3 linked regions of the Homo sapiens genome follow. The protein of the gene in region 2 purifies or fractionates together with the protein of the main gene of each other region. This does not show direct contact. Each region holds a gene or a part of one and is shown on either strand. Other genes may lie near its edges.

Region 1 (3,651 bases), on a different chromosome or scaffold from region 2:
CTCAGCCATTAAAAGGAATGAAGTACTGACACATGCAACATGAATGAACCCTGAAAATGCTAAGTGATAGAAGCTAGACACAAAAGGCCACATATTTTATTCCATTTATATGAAATATTCAGAGTAAGCAAATCCATAGAGACAGAAAGTAAATTCATGGTTACCAGAGGCTGAGGGAAGGGAGAAATGGGAAATGTATGGGTTTTGAGGGAGCAGGGGATGATAAGCGTTCTGGAATGAGATAGTGGTGATGTTTTACAACCCTGTGAGTATACTAAAAGCCACCGAACTAGACATTGTAAAATGGAGATTTTTACTGTATGTGAATTATAGCTCCAAAAAACTTGGTTTAAAAAAGTACTTGACAGGCCGGGTGCGGTGGCTCACGCCTGTAATCCCAGCACTTTGGGAGGCCGAGGCGGGTGGATCACGAGGTCAGGAGATCAGACCATCCTGGCTAACACGGTAAAACCCCGTCTCTACTAAAAAAATACAAAAAAAATTAGCTGGGCGTGGTGGTGGGCGCCTGTAGTCCCAGCTACTTGGGAAGCTGAGGCGGGAGAATGGCATGAATCTGGGAGGCGGAGCTTGCAGTGAGCCGAGATCACGCCACTGCACTCCAGCCTGGGCGACAGAGCAAGACTCCCTCTCAAGGAAAAAAAAAAAAAAAAGTACTTGATAGAAAGGGCTTAATGAAAAAAAAAAAAGAAAGAAAGAAAAAAGTACTTGAGGCCAGGCATGGTGGCTCATGCCTGTAATCGCAAGCACTTTGGGAAACCAAGGCAGGAGGATCACTTGAGCCCAGGAATTCGAGACCAGTCTGAGCAACATAGTAAGACCCTGTCTCTACAAAAAAAAAAAAAAAAAAAAAAAAAAAAAAATTAAAAATGAGCCGGGCGTGGTAGCACGTGCCTATAGTCCCAGCTACTCTGGAAGCTGAGGCAGGAGGATCGCCTGAGACCAGGAGGTCCAGGCTGCAGTGAGCCATGATAGCATCACACCACACTCCAGCCTAGGAAACACAGTGAGACCCTGTCTCAAAAAAAAAAAAAAAACTAATTATATCAGTGCAATAGTTATATCCTAAAACCAGAAAACACGTTACATAGTCCACACCTTGAATTCAATCTCAGATATGAATATGCTGATTTTTTAGTAGTCTATTTAACATATCTAATCTATGCTAAGAAATCTTTATTTATTTATTTTGAAAGACAGGGTTTTGTCTGTGATATGGAGTGCAGTGGCATGATCATGGCTCACTGTAGCCTTGAGTTCCTGGGCTCAAGTGATCCTCCTGCCTCAGCCTTCTAAGCAGCTGAAACTACAGGCATGTGCCATCGTGACCAGATAATTTTTTAATTTTTTATAGATGTTTCCCAGGCTGGTCTTGAACTCCTGACCTCAAGTGATCCTCTCGCCTTGGCCTCCTAAAGAGATGGGATTACAGGTGTGAGCCACCATGACCCAGACTAAGAAATCTTTGTAATCGTTACAAATTTATAATTTAACTATAGCTAATGAACGATTGAGTCAAAACACAAAATGGCATTCCAAATAAATGTCATAAAAATTCACATCTTTTTATATTACTTTAAATGTAAAATTTACAGTGCTCAATATGTGCAAACCTCTGGTACATGGTGCATATAAAGGGGAAAAAGGTCTACTCTTCAAAAACTTTTCATCAAAGAGCTATTTCTGCATTAGCATAAATCTAGAAGGTTACAAATAAAGACAATATAATGTGTAGCTAAGAATTCATGGTAATGAAGTTCACTCGTCACCTTTCTCAGACTTGCAAAACATAGTATCTTTAAACTGGATATATGGATATACAGTACTTAAATTATACGTACCAATAAAGCTAATCATTAGTGAGGAAGACTCCTATCCCTTGCAGTCCTTTACTTGTAGTTTGGGTCTTGTAGTGATAAAACAATGACTAAGACCATTAGAGAAAATAGCCTCCTGGTTAAACATACATAATTTGATAAAGGTAGGTTTCCAATATTTGGGTGACTATTTTCTTGGGAAAAAAAAAATGACAGCTGTGTGCAGCAGGCTCACGCCTGTAAGCCCAGCACTTTGGAAGGCCAAAGCGGGTGGACCACCTGAGGTCAGGAGTTCGAGACCAGCCTGGCCAACATGGTGAAACCCCATCTCTACTAAAAACACAAAAATTAGGTAGGCATGATAGTGGGCGCCTACTAATCCCAGCTACTTGGGAGGCTGAGACAGGAGAATCACTTGAACCCAGGAGGCAGATGTCACAGTGAGCCAAGATCATGGCACGGCACTCCAGCCTGGGTGACAGAGCGAGACTCCATCTCAAAAAAAAAAAAAAAAAAAGACTACTGCTGGTCATGTTATTTTTATTGAGAGTCTCATCAATAACTTTAGGCCTGGTGTTAATAACTTACATAACTTAATGTAGTTTTCTGCCTAAAAATATAATTTCATTTTGCATCCCCAATCTCCTCCTGAAATTAGTTCCAAAATATTTAAGCACTTATACAAGGTCCTTCCAAGCAAGATATTACAGAAACTACAAGTTATGATACCGCTAAAAGGATCACAGCATCAAAGTATCAATAATTTTCACCGAAGAGTCCAAGCACATTTTAAAAGTTTCTAGCCTCACACCCGAACAGCTTGAACCTTTAGTGAGAATACTCACTGCCGCAAACACGAACAGCTTGAGAAACAAAAGCATATGTTAATAATACCAAATAACCTTGTTTCCTTGCATTTATGTACTGACAAATTGTATTTTAAAATAAATAATTTTAAGAGCAAACAGCCTGTTCTTAGATTGCCTAGTCTGTATATTTGACTAAATTTCAAAGTTACTCATATAAAACAGTGTTTTATTCACTGAAGTGAGGCTTACTTTATAGAAGATAAACACCCTTATCCGAAGTGAAAACATGCAATGCAGAAACTCAGTATAGCATTCAGCCATCCTGCAGAAAGAAATCCACCAACTGAATAATTGTTGTAAACAAATAATGCAATTTCTCAATTAGATGTCTTGATAAAATTATTTTGCCCATGCTTAACTCTTTAATAAGTATCACAATCATTTGAACTGTCTGTTCTGTAGCTTATTTATAATAATCATCACCTAAAATAGTTATGGCTGCAATCCTTTAGAAATAAATTTAGGCCAGGCGCGGTGGTTCACGCCTGTAATCCCAGCACTTTGGGAGGCCGAGGCGGCTGGATCACCAGGTCAGGAGATGGAGACCAACCTGGCTAACATGGTGAAACCCCGTCTCCACTAAAATACAAAAAAAATTAGCCGGGCGTGTTGGCGGGGCCTGCAGTCCCAGCTACTCGGGAGGCTGAGGCAGGAGAATGGCGTGAACCCGGGGGGCGGAGCTTGCAGTGAGCCGAGATTACGCCACTGCACTCCAGCCTGGGCGACTGAGCAAGACTCCGTCTCAAAAAAAAAAAAAAGAAAAAAAATTTAGTGTCATTCCGTTTTATATCAAACAAAACAGAAATTTCCATAAGTAAAAGTATTTTATGGAGCTTTTATTCCAGTTGCAGAAGAATCAAAAAAAATTCCAAAACCACTGGCCTAAAACTATCAACTGCCAAAAACAGTGCCCAGGACATAGCGACACTTAAAATGTTTTACCAGTC
Region 2 (3,651 bases):
GACCCACCCATCAGCATTTGACATGGTGACCAGCCTCTTTGTCAAAACACTCTCTTCTCTACGCTTCCAGGACTTTCCTCTTCTGTTTTTTTCCCACACTTCACTGGCCTCTTCTTAGACTCCTTTCTGGTTTCTCTCTCTCCTCCCCTGGTTCCCAGCCTGTGAAACTTGGAGGCCTGGGGCTGAGATGTGGGACTCCTCTCTGTCCTGTCTGCACTTGCTCCCTAGGAGAGCTCATCCAGCTCAAGGCTGCGGCACAATTTCCACAATGGCATCCACAGCTCAGCCTCTACCCTGGGCCTCTCTTTTGAACATCACACTGGTACGGGAATGAGTCTTTATACTGTCTGCTGTCTGTCATTCAAAACTGAGCTCCAGGTCCTCCTTCCCTCAAACTTACCCCTTCTGCAGGCTGACCCATCCCTGCAACTCCACCCCTTTCAGTGCTTGGGCCAGGAACTGCGAATGTGTCCTGGGCTTTTCCCTTGCCCTCATATCCTACCTCCAGTCCAGGGAAGTCCTGTTGGTTCTACCCTCCAAGGCAGGCCACTTCTCTACTGCCTCCCACTGTTCCAAGCCATTTCCTCTCTCCCTGGATTCTTGCAGAAGCCTCCTGATTGTCTTCCTTCATCTCTCTTGCCCTTCATTCTCCTCCCTGCATGGCAGCTGGAGTGGTCCTACTGCAGTGGAACCAGCCCTCATTCCCCTCCGTTCCACCTGCAGAACCCTGGGATGCCCCAACGGCTTGTGGTTTTCCGACTTCATCCCTTTCTTACCACCTCCCTGCCAACCCCCAGCCTTGCTCACTTCTCTAGCTGCAGTGGCCCTTCTTGCTGTTGCTTGACCATGCCAGGCATACTCCTGTCACTGCCTGGAAGCTTCTTCCCTCAATTTCTACATAGCTGGCTTTCTCACCCCTTCAGGACTTCCTCCAAAGTCACCTCCTCAGAGAGGTCCTCCCTGGCCACCATTTCAGCCCCTTCCCTTGACCTTATAGAGCCCTTTCCTGGTTACTTTTTAATACTTCAGTCTTCACCACTGCCTTAAGGACTGTGGATTTTTATTTGTTCAGTGTCTGTCTCCCTCACTAGAATATAAACTCTTTGAAGGCAGAGATTTTTGTCTTATTTGTTTCCTGTTACACAATGCCTGGCTAATAGCAGGTCCTCAGGAAATCTTTGTTGAATGAATGAATAAATGAATGAGTTTCAGAGGAAACATTTGGGCATGTTTTCTTCGGAGAGCATTTTCCATCTCTCCCTCTCCTCATCTCCCACACCCCATCGCATCAACCCAGTGCATTTCATCTCCCCCACCCCATCTCATCTCCCCTACCTCATCTCCCCTCCCCATCTCATCCTCCCCTACCCCATCTCATCTCCCCTACTCCATCTCATCTCATCTCATCTCATCTCATCTCATCTCATCTCATCTCATCTCATCTCATCTCATCTCATCTTCTTTTACCCCATCTGCTCTCCCCTATGCCATCTACTCTTTCCTACCCCATCTACTCTCCCCTACCCCATCTCATCTCCTTTACCTCATTTCATCTCCTCTACCCGATCTGCTCTCCTCTACCCCATCTCAAGTCCCCTACTCCATCTCCTCTCCCCTACCCCATCTCATCTCCCCTGCCTTATCTACTCTCCCCTACATGTTCCACCCTCTCTTTGGAAGAGCTGCTGCTTAGTGTTCATAGCTTTTCCCTCTAGCCCTGCCCCTTTCCCTCCCTTCCTAGGAGTGATGGCCCTCCTCATGCATGTTTTTATAGCCTGGCTACAAATTCACGTATAAATGAGATCTGCTTTTTTTTTTCTTTGTGTGTGTGTGTGTATTTTTAAAAACTGTGGCAGAATAATACACAGCATAAAATTGACCATCTTCACCGCTATTAAGCATACAGGTCAGTGGCATTAAGCACATTCACAGTGTTGTGCAGTCTGCACCCCATCTGTCTGCAGAACTCTTTATCTTGGAAAACTGAAACTCTGTCCCCATTAAACAACTCCCCATTCCCCCTCCCCCAGCCCTGGCCACCACCATTCTACTTTCTATCTATCTCTATGATTTTGACTACTCTGGGTACCTCATATAAGTGCAGTTATATAGTATTTGTCCTTATGTGTCTGGCTTATTTTACTTAGCATAATATCTTCAAGTTTCATCCATGTTGTAGCAAGTGCCAAGATTTCTTTCCATTCTAAGGCTGAATACTATTCCACTGTATGGATAGAACACATTTTTACAATTCATTCATCCATCCATAGACACTTGGATTACTCCCCTCTTTTGGCTATTATTAATAATGCTGCTATGAACATGGATGTACAGTATCTTTTTGAGACCCTGGTTTCAGCTTTTTGGGCATTTACCCAGAAGTGGAATGGCTGGATCATGTCATAATTCTACATTTAATTTTTTGAGGAACCATCATGCTGTTTTTCACAGTGGCTGCACCATTTGACATGCCCACCAGCAGTGGACAAGGGTTCCAGTTTTTCCACATCCTTGTCAATGCTTGTTATTTTCTGTTTTTTGATAGCAGCCATCCTAATGGGTACAAGGTGGTGTTTCATGTAAAAACTTAAATGGCATTGTACTTCGTATATGCAGCTTGACTTATGTACTTAATATTAACTTTTTTACCATTTAACCATGTAAGCCCTGTAGATCTCGTTTATTTTACTATTTAAATAAAATTAAACTCATATTCATACATATTTTTGGAAAACAGCAGTTCCCTGTGCCCCATCTCCCTCCCGTGAATTCTTATTCCACTTTGAAGTCTTCTGGCTGTGTCTTCTGGCTGTGTCGTGTTTCTAAATGTAAATACTGCTGTTTCTTGATTTTTTCAGTTTGAGACCCCAGCTATTGACCCTTAGTGAGGAAGAAAGGAACTGAGCTCTCTTCACATTTTTTGAAGGCTACTCTTGACCTTTTGTTTTCTTAAGTGTAGACATTTACATAATCCCAGGAAACAAGGTTTCAGAGCTCTGATCCTTTGCATTCTGAGAACATTCGGGACTTGGCAGGTTGAATTTTCTTGTCTTTAATGAGAAGGTTATCCCTGGGATCAGGTTGGTAGAAGTGCATGGGTGTACTTTGTTTGGGTTTTTCTCTTATTAAAGAAAATGAAGCTTGGTTTTCCTAATGGAACAGGTCTGGAATCCACATCCAGTTGTGTGCCAGCCATTATGCCATGTGCTGTGCAGCCATTACCTCCTCAGCCTTCACCACTGCCCTCGGGGTGGCGCTCTTCTTATTCCCACTTCAGGGAGGAGAGGACTGAGGCCCAGAGAGGCAAAGCCACTCAGCCAAGGCCCGAGGCCTGCCAGCAGCCGTATCAGGTGGGAGGCACTCCGTTCTGACTCCCACACGCTGGCTGCAAGTGCTCCTCTGCTTCTCGGGTTCAGCCTCTGAGCCACCTGGGTGGTAGGTGAGAGCACTGCCCTCATCCTGCAGTGACAAGAAGGTAGGGGACTAGCACTGCTGAGTACCTCTGTGTGTCAGGCCCTGGGCCTACCCTGACATATTCCAAACTCTCCGGCAGTTCCCCTGGGCTGCACGGTGTGTTTGGCGGCATTTGCTGGGAGAGCTGGTGGAAAGCTAAGCTCAGGGGCTCTCACGTGGTGTGGCCCTGGCTCTGGG
Region 3 (3,651 bases), on a different chromosome or scaffold from region 2:
TGGCCTTCCTCTGGCTTTTGGTCACATCTGACGGTCTTTGACCAGCCCTTCTGCCCTCAGCCCACTGTGACCTTCTCTCCTGGTCTCAGACCACCCCCAGCCCCTGCAGAACCCCTCTTCTGCCCTCACGCCTCCCCTCTTCTCCGCAGGACACCCCTGCCCGCGATGGCCATCCTCCCGTTGCTCCTGTGCCTGCTGCCGCTGGCCCCTGCCTCATCCCCACCCCAGTCAGCCACACCCAGCCCATGTCCCCGCCGCTGCCGCTGCCAGACACAGTCGCTGCCCCTAAGCGTGCTGTGCCCAGGGGCAGGCCTCCTGTTCGTGCCACCCTCGCTGGACCGCCGGGCAGCCGAGCTGCGGCTGGCAGACAACTTCATCGCCTCCGTGCGCCGCCGCGACCTGGCCAACATGACAGGCCTGCTGCATCTGAGCCTGTCGCGGAACACCATCCGCCACGTGGCTGCCGGCGCCTTCGCCGACCTGCGGGCCCTGCGTGCCCTGCACCTGGATGGCAACCGGCTGACCTCACTGGGCGAGGGCCAGCTGCGCGGCCTGGTCAACTTGCGCCACCTCATCCTCAGCAACAACCAGCTGGCAGCGCTGGCGGCCGGCGCCCTGGATGATTGTGCCGAGACACTGGAGGACCTCGACCTCTCCTACAACAACCTCGAGCAGCTGCCCTGGGAGGCCCTGGGCCGCCTGGGCAACGTCAACACGTTGGGCCTCGACCACAACCTGCTGGCTTCTGTGCCCGCCGGCGCTTTTTCCCGCCTGCACAAGCTGGCCCGGCTGGACATGACCTCCAACCGCCTGACCACAATCCCACCCGACCCACTCTTCTCCCGCCTGCCCCTGCTCGCCAGGCCCCGGGGCTCGCCCGCCTCTGCCCTGGTGCTGGCCTTTGGCGGGAACCCCCTGCACTGCAACTGCGAGCTGGTGTGGCTGCGTCGCCTGGCGCGGGAGGACGACCTCGAGGCCTGCGCGTCCCCACCTGCTCTGGGCGGCCGCTACTTCTGGGCGGTGGGCGAGGAGGAGTTTGTCTGCGAGCCGCCCGTGGTGACTCACCGCTCACCACCTCTGGCTGTGCCCGCAGGTCGGCCGGCTGCCCTGCGCTGCCGGGCAGTGGGGGACCCAGAGCCCCGTGTGCGTTGGGTGTCACCCCAGGGCCGGCTGCTAGGCAACTCAAGCCGTGCCCGCGCCTTCCCCAATGGGACGCTGGAGCTGCTGGTCACCGAGCCGGGTGATGGTGGCATCTTCACCTGCATTGCGGCCAATGCAGCTGGCGAGGCCACAGCTGCTGTGGAGCTGACTGTGGGTCCCCCACCACCTCCTCAGCTAGCCAACAGCACCAGCTGTGACCCCCCGCGGGACGGGGATCCTGATGCTCTCACCCCACCCTCCGCTGCCTCTGCTTCTGCCAAGGTGGCCGACACTGGGCCCCCTACCGACCGTGGCGTCCAGGTGACTGAGCACGGGGCCACAGCTGCTCTTGTCCAGTGGCCGGATCAGCGGCCTATCCCGGGCATCCGCATGTACCAGATCCAGTACAACAGCTCGGCTGATGACATCCTCGTCTACAGGTGCAGGGTCCAGGCACTGGGGTAGCTTGGGTGGGGGAGTGAGGCAAGGGGAGGGTTGAGGGTACACCTACTAATACCCTACACCGAAGCACAACTGATAAGTGATGCTGGAAGGTTCCAAAAGAAATCAGAGAGCAAAAGTAAAAGAAATCAGGCAGCAAGGATAACAAGACTCTGGCAGAAAGGGTCAATGAAATCTGACAGCAGTGATAAAAAGAAGTCAGACAAGAAGGACGAAGTAAATGAGACAGCAAATGTTAAAATATATCAGGCTACAGGGCTAAAAAAGATCAAGCAATAAGGATAAACGAAATCAGGCTGCATGAGTAAAAAGAAATTAGGCAGCAAGAATAAATAGTAGTAGCAAACATAAAAAGGAAACCAGGCAGCGGGAGGAGAAAGTAATCAGGGCAGAAGAATAAAATGTTAATGGGCAAGGGTGGGTGGGGAAGATAAGGGGATAAAAATAAATTTAAGTTGTAAAGATAAAGAGAGAAACACCAGGTTTTCCAGATGACAGGACTAGATACTAGCTGGGCTGCAGGAAGAAAAGGAGATCAAACAGGAAAGCACAGGGAGCCCAGAAACAATGAAATAAGCAGCTCTGTTAGAAAAAGAAATCAGACCAGAGGTTAGAAGGAAATTGCAGGGAGGAGGTTCGATAGAGACTGGGCTTCGGTGTGTGTGGTGTGAACTATTCCATGTTTCAAGTTCTAATATAGTGACATCCAGATTTTTTTTTTTTTGAGACAGGGTCTCACTTTGTCGCCCAGGCTGGAGTGCAGTGGTGCAATCTCGGCTCACTACAACCTCCACTTCCCGGGTTCAAGCGATTCTTGTGCCTCAGCCTCTCGAGTAGCTGGGATTACAGACGTGCACCAGCACGCCCAGCTAATGTTTGCATTTTATTTTTAGTGGAGACGGGGTTTTGCCATGTTGGCCAGGCTGGTCTAGAAGTCCTGACCTCAGGTGATCCACCTGCCTCAGCCTCCCAAAGTGCTGGGATTACAGGCGTGAACCACCACACCCAGTGTAGATTTTTTCTTTTCTTTTTTTTTTTGAGACGGAGTCTCACTCTGTTGCCCAGGCTGGAGTGCAGTGGCACAATCTTGACTCACTGCAAGCTCCGCCTCCCAGGTTCATGCCATTCTCCTGCCTCAGCCTCCCGAGTAGCTGGGACTACAGGCGCCCGTCACCATGCCCGGCTAATTTTTTGTATTTCTAGTAGAGATGGGGTTTCACCATGTTAGCCAGGATGGTCTCGATCTCCTGACATCGTGATCCACCCGCCTCGGCCTCCCAAAGTGCTAGGATTACAGGCCTGAGCCACCGCGCCCGACAGATTTTTTATTTTCTAAATCAAATCAAACCTAGTTCAAGTTCCTTTTGCCAGGTAAACAGAAATATCCAGTTTGCCACACTTGTGGGGGATTCTCTTCTCTCTCCTGTTGTTGCAAACACAGAACCTGGGGTTTACACACTCCAAGAGGTGGCTCAGTCCAACTTGTTCCCCCAAGCTGGAGAGCACTCAGCACATCTGCAGTGACCGCATGTGGTCAGCAGTGGTGGCTGCTGACCTAGGTGCTGTTGACACCTCTTACCAAAGTCCAACCTTGCATGGATGGACTGCGGCTGTGGGTGAGTCCCTGTCCTCACGGCCAGGCTGGGCCAAGGGTGCAGCCCCAAGGCTGACTGTAAAGACTGGACCTCCCCAGGGTTGAGGACTGTTCCTTGGGGACCTAGTAGTACCTGGATGTCCTTTCCCTCCCTTGGGGCCAACACCTCAAGAAAAGGCCACTTGATTTCCATTTCAGTCCTGGCAACCCACTGAGCTCATTCTACTCCCTTTCTCAGACATGACTCGGAAGATTGCACGGAAGTCCTGCCCCTGAAAATCACACAAGTCGGCCAGGCGCGGTGGCTTAACCCCTATAATCCCAGCACTTTGGGAGGCCGAGGCAGGTGGATCACCAGGTCAGGAGTTTGAGACCATCCTGGCTAACACGGTGAAACCTCGTCTCTACTAAAAATACAAAAAATTAGCTGAGTGTGGTGGCACGCGCCTGTAGTC

Evidence for each region.
Region 1: the proteins of WDR25 (region 2) and LRP6 purify together in Homo sapiens (affinity purification with mass spectrometry; one large-scale study listed by BioGRID and IntAct). This does not show direct contact.
Region 3: the proteins of WDR25 (region 2) and LRFN3 purify together in Homo sapiens (affinity purification with mass spectrometry; one large-scale study listed by BioGRID and IntAct). This does not show direct contact.

Annotation. Positions count from the first base shown.
Region 1 is NC_000012.12:12,256,930-12,260,580, forward strand, and holds part of LRP6 (low-density lipoprotein receptor-related protein 6 isoform b precursor), read right to left. Parts: intron 1-3,651. UniProt on the Homo sapiens protein: Component of the Wnt-Fzd-LRP5-LRP6 complex that triggers beta-catenin signaling through inducing aggregation of receptor-ligand complexes into ribosome-sized signalosomes.
Region 2 is NC_000014.9:100,463,346-100,466,996, forward strand, and holds part of WDR25 (WD repeat-containing protein 25), read left to right. Parts: intron 1-3,651.
Region 3 is NC_000019.10:35,939,261-35,942,911, forward strand, and holds part of LRFN3 (leucine-rich repeat and fibronectin type-III domain-containing protein 3 precursor), read left to right. Parts: intron 1-149; 5' UTR 150-165; coding exon 166-1,580; intron 1,581-3,651. UniProt on the Homo sapiens protein: Cell adhesion molecule that mediates homophilic cell-cell adhesion in a Ca(2+)-independent manner. Promotes neurite outgrowth in hippocampal neurons.